2 separate regions of the Homo sapiens genome follow, and region 1 is linked to region 2. Evidence: fine-mapped expression QTL. A gene starts in region 2. The other region holds a variant in brackets. All regions are shown on one strand. Distances are between the middles of the regions.

What was found. PIP is the estimated chance that this variant, and not a neighbour inherited with it, causes the effect.
Region 1: its variant is the best candidate, but not a certain one, in a credible set for the expression of ZNF32 in whole blood (INTERVAL, PIP 0.69).

Annotation. Positions count from the first base shown.
Region 1 is chr10:43,521,859-43,524,771 of GRCh38, forward strand. It overlaps a transcript of ZNF487 not described here and the pseudogene LOC100130881. Among named protein-coding and RNA genes, the nearest start is that of ZNF239, 51 kb to the right of the region's middle. The variant C/T (reference allele first, on the strand shown) is at 1,123.
Region 2 is chr10:43,647,738-43,650,650 of GRCh38, forward strand. ZNF32 (zinc finger protein 32) reads right to left here and starts at 1,144. Exons shown (of 3, transcript NM_006973.3): 1 at 1,065-1,144. All of the region lies in intron 1 of ZNF32-AS3 (ZNF32 antisense RNA 3), which reads left to right. It overlaps ZNF32-AS2 (ZNF32 antisense RNA 2), which reads left to right. Exons shown (of 3, transcript NR_047558.1): 3 at 1-282. RefSeq lists a silencer at 650-1,169.

The DNA.
Region 1 (2,913 bases), 130 kb before region 2:
ACACACGTATATATTATATATTATATGTATATGAAAAGTAAAGGATGACTTTATATATACAAAAAGAGTTGTGTGAGGTACAAGACTGTTTATGAAATAAATTGATAAATAGGGAAATTTTATGATTTGATGGCTATGACAGGTTCATTAATGACAACTGTGGTAAAAGAAAATGAAGATACAACAGCAGAATAAAACTACATACCTGATCTTGTTTCCATAGCCTACATGTATGCTTTCTCTGGACATTGGCTTTTGGTGTGAATCAGCTAGAGTAAGAATTACTGTCTGGGCAATAGGAGTTTTCTTTTGCACATGGAAAATTATTGCTGTCTGAAATTGTAATTTGGTGTTGATGAGTGGAAGAGAAAAGAAGAGCCAGGCAAAGTGGCTCATGCCTGTAATCCCAGCACTTTGGAAGGCTGAAGTGGGCAGATCACTTGAAATCAGGAGTTTGAGACCAGCCTGGCCAATATGGTGAAATCCCATCTCTACTAAAAATACAAATACCACTTGCTAGTATGTGTCCACTGATTTACTACTCATTCAGATAATTTAAAAGAAATCAGAGATAGAGCAACACCTGCTAGGACCTTAGGGTGCGGTGGCTCATGCCTGTAATCTCTGCACTTTGAGAGGCTGAGGTGGTAGGTTTACCTGAGGTCAGGAGTTCGAGACCAGCCTGGCAAAGATGGCGAAACCCTGTCTCTACTAAAAATACAAAAATCAGCCAGGCACGGTGGCGGGTGCCTGTAATCCCAGCTACTTGAGAGGATGAGGCAGGAGAATCACTTGAACCTGGGAGGTGGAGGTTGCAATGAGCCAAGATTGTGCCATTGCAATCCAGCCTGGGCAAAGAGCTAGATTCTGTCTCAAAAAACAAAAAATAAAAAAAATAAAAACAAAGAAAAGAATTAGTGATGCATTGGAAACATATGTATTAGTGAGTATTTTACAGCAGGAGATAAAAACCTACATTTGCCTCCTCCAAACTTAATTTTTTCTTTGCCGTCACCCCTCAAACACTATCACCTGATTTTTTTTCTGGCAATTTTACCTACTATTCAATGCTTTCGATGATTCCCCTTCATGCCTCTACCATTCATCCTAAAATACCATTTG[C/T]TGTATTTGTTTATTCCACTTTATCCAGTTTTGAAGGTCACATTTCTAAAGTGCCAGATTACTGTGTTTTTATTTGCAGATTCCTCTCCTTTTTTCATATTCAGTTTGTTTTGTCTAATCCTAAGGGAGTGAGATGTATGCCTTCAGGATTACTTTCAGACCAGATGCCTGGGCTATCCTAGAGCATTTGCATGTTACATCCCCTTTCCACATGAAATGTGTTAATATTTATAAGATATGGTAAACTATTCTCATTTCTAGAATTCTGGAAAGTTGACCTGATGGAGAAGAACCAGGAAAACCAAGACCAGCATTTGAGGAAAGCTGGTTTTGTCAACAACAAAATACTGATGGAAGACAGAAATAGTGTTTTAGGAGAAACATTTAATATAAATTCAAACCTTGTTCCAATGAGAAAAATACCTGATAAATATGACTTATGTATAATGAACGTGAATTATATTTCAGAATTAATTGTTAGTAATAGAAACTCCTTTGGAAGGAAGCTTGATGAGCTCAGTGCACATGCGAAATTGCTCCTTCATATGACATGAGCATCCTTATGCCAGAGAGAAACATTTTGAGTGTGACAGAAATGAGAAAGCCATCTGTTAGAATGAGGACTTATTTCAGCATCAGGATATTCAAACTCTGAAGCAAATTTTTGAATACCTTGAGTGTGGGAAAGCTTTTCATGAGGAGGCAGCCTTCAGTACCCATAAGAGAGTGTGCTTCTGGGAGAAACCTTGTGAATATAATGAACAACTAAGAGCCTTTTCTGACAATCCAAACCTCCTTGTTCATCAGAGTACTCACAGAAGGGAAAATCACTACGAGTTTAATTGCTGTGGGAGGAGGTCTGTTGGTGAGAAATCTCTAAATAAACACCATGGAGGAATCATGGGGAAAAAATACTATGAGTGTGAGAATAATTTTGGCAAAAGTCACTCTTTATTGACACTGAAAGAACTCAAAAAGGAAAAACAAGCTTTGAATGTAATGAAGGTAGGGAAATCTTTAAGAAACCAAGTCTCTCTCAACAGCATACATACGCAGAAAAGAAAACCTTTCAAAATAGTCATTATGGGAGTTCTTTTTGGCATATGTCAGTTCTCCCTAAACATCAGCAAACACACGTAGGAGGAAAGTTCTATGAATGTAATGAGTGTGGGAAAGCTCTCAGCCACAGTTCATCTATCATAGTACATAATAGGATATACACAGGGGAGAAACTTTATGAATGTACTGAATGTGAGAAAACCTTCACAAATAGGTCAGGCCTTACAGTTCATTGGCAGATACACACAGGGCAAAAACCCTAAGAATGTATTGAATGTGTCATGCACATTCGATACATACAAATGCAAAGTGTCATTAGGTTATGTGACTTATATCTGAAGGGAAGCCTTTAGATATAAGTCAGTCCTTACAGTACATCAGTACATCAGAGAACACACACAGGTGATAAACCCAATGAGTGTAGTGAATGTGGGAAAAAATTCTGTGAGAAGTCATATCTCCAAGTACATCAGAGAACTCACACAGGGGAGAAATCCCATGAGGGTAAAGAATGTGGAAAAACCTTTGTTTACAATTCATTCCTCATAGTACATCAAAGGATACACATAGGTGTAAGACCCTATTAATGTAACGAATGTGGGAAAACATTCTCACAAAAGCCAGACTTCACTTATCATCAGAGAACTCATACTGGAGAAAGGCCCTGTGAATGTAATGAATGTGGGAAGTCTTTCTCAGTGAAGTCAAAACTTATTGTGCATCAGAGAACTC
Region 2 (2,913 bases):
ACAGCTGCACACACATTAAAAGTCCCTGGGGTACATGGCGCCTGCTGCCTGGGGTTGGACTCTGTCGCCGGGGATTCCAGAAATTAGAGTAGAATTCACAGCTCTGCCTCTCCACCTGCTGTGAGGTCTTCAAGTTACAACTCCGCCGCCTATCAGGGACCTCCGTGATTAGTAAGGGAGAAATTGTCATATTTTTCTCCCTAGATCACAGGTCTGAGGAAGCAGTTTCCCCAAGATTTTGTAAAAGTGGCTTTATAATTAAAAACATTGATTTTCCTATTAGAAAGGCTACTATATCCTTTGGAAAAAGCTTAGAAGTAGTCCGTGAGTCTTGGCTTCTTGCCGTGGCTCCCCCAGGATATGATCTTGGGCGAGTAACCCAGCAGCCCTGACTCTGCTTCCCCACTTATTAAACAGGTTACTAACACTGTCCTATCAGGTAGGACAATGAGAAGGAAAGAACCAAACAAGAGGAGTATCAGACGAGACCACCAGACTTAAGATCTAAAATCCGGCGTCCTCTGGAGGGCGGATGAGAAGAGGGGTACACTTGGCGGTCTGGAAAATGTCCTGGGGCCAGTTTCAGGTTTAGGAGCTTGTGGGTAGCGTGGTTTCCCACACGCTGCCTGGCTTCCTACTCTCCCCCGCAGGGGCTGCCTCTCCTCCCACCCCGGAAGGCCGGCACCGGCTTCCCGCACTCGCTGAAGCCCGCACGGAGGCCGGGTGAGCCTGCCGCGGCCTCCCCCTCCCACGCCCCGACGCCATGGGCCCTGCTCCTCTCCGCAGACGCTGCCCTCCCGCCTCAGGCCCCGGGCCCCGGGCACCGGGCCCGCCCTGCGTCCTGAACCTCGGCATCCCGCTCTCCGGTCCACGGGACCCTGCTCTGCGGACCGCCGACCTCTCCGCTCGCGGCTGGCCTCCCTCGGGGCCCGGGCCGGCCAGGCCTGCTCATTTCCTTGGCGGCCGCTGGCATAAGGCGGCCACACGGAGGGCCCGGGACAGCGGTCTGATGGCGCAGCCCCGCCTTGCCCCGGCGCTCTGACCCGGCCAGCGGCCTCACTCACCGCAGCGGCGCGTGCCCGCAGACAAAGGCCGGCGCCGAGCCCGCAGCAGCGCCAGCGCCGGCGCCGGCGGAATGGACTACAACTCCCAGGAGTCTCCCCGCGAGCCCGCCCGCCGGGCCGTGGGTCTCGGCGGCCCCGGCTTCCCAAGAGCTCTGTGGGAAATGTAGTTCTCTGGCGCGCCCTGCGCTCGGGCCCCGCAGGTCCCTAGGGCGCGGGGACCTCAAGCCGTCCCGTTTGGACTGGTAATCCGGAGACTCACAGCGGTGACCTGTCAGCGGACGCGGAGCCGGGACGGAGCCACGGCCGCTCAGATTAGCAGGATCTGATTGACAGCATCGGGGTAGCAGACGCTGAGCCAGGGACTCAGGAATACAGGGTTCTTGCAGGGCGTCGCGGAAGGAAACGAAGTTTTTGGGAGAAATCCGTTTGATAAAGCCTTGGCGGCTTCGAGGTCATGTGTTGAGCCTCTGGCTGCATGAACAAAAGCGAAGCCCGCTTTCATGGAGCTTCTGTGAAGAGCAACAGGAACACAGGCAGTCCAGTCGTCCTGAGATACTGGGAGGAGCATGGTTGCTTTTGAACACGTAGGAGATAAAGCCTCTCTAATAATGCCTGTTTTTTTTTTTCCTTCACTCTGTCTCCCAGGCTTGAGTGCAGTGGCACGGTGTCGCCTCACTGCAACCTCCGCCTTCTGGGCTCAAGTGATTCTCCTGCCCCAGCCTCCCAAGTAGCTGGGACTACAGGTCTGTGCCACCATGCCTGGCTAATTTTTTTGTATTTTTAGTAGAGATGAAGGTTTTACCATGTTGGCCAGGCTGTCTGATATGCCTTAAGCCTCTTTTAAACGCACTTTTCCAGGATCGGGGCCACATCCTGGAGCTGTTCTGCCTGGCCGGGTGTATCTCTGGGTCCCTGCCTCTGGAGCCCCTCTCCGTAGATGTGTCTGTCCATCCTCTTTCGTGAAGGACTAATAAAGAATGCTTCCTCTTGCTATGTTCTTGTTCTCTACCCCAAAGCCACAGATTTGTTAAATCAAACAACTTAATTTCACTCAATATGCAAAGGTGTCTGTAAGTAATAAGTTGATTCCTAAATGTTAGCTTTTACTATTGCACATCATTTCTGAATTTCATTCAACATTTATCCGTTGAATCCATTTTAAGTGCTGACACTGGGGATACGAATGTGAGCAAGACACACTCCGTGCTCCTAGGGAGGAGCTGACAGTCTGGTGGAGCAAACAAACACCACCTTCCTCACATGGGGGTCGGGGTGTTGCACAGCTAAGTCCCAGAGTGTGTGGTGCAAACTGTCCTGAAGCTCCCCATTCCTGAACTGCCCCAGGTGGCTCCTCTCCTCACTCCTCCCAAGTCTGAGAAAGGGGTGGAGGGCGGCACACAGCAAAGGCCAAGGCTCAGAGTCCTAAGGCTGCGGCCTCTGCTTCACACAAGGGTACATAGGTTCTGTTAAGGTCAAGACCGGCTGTGGACACTAGGACAAGTTTCAGATCCTGCCGTGAAGGTACATGACAAAGCATTGGTGGGAAAAGGTGGCTGTGAGGGGGGACCATCGTCACTTTTATAGATCTGCATAAATTCCCTTAAGGCGTCTCAGGAAAGTGGACACATTGAAGGGCCCAAAGCAGGGGAGAAAGCTGTTAGGATTGGGGTTGATGTGACCCCAGCCTCCATAGACAGACTGCCCAGCTGCAAAATGGGGCACATCCTCACCCACCACCTGCATCTTAAGGCAAATACTCAACAAAAGGGAGGGTGTGGGGTGAGGGTGAAAGGGAAATCATCCGCAGTGTAGATTTGAAAAATTACCAAAGAACAATTTCCTCACTTTG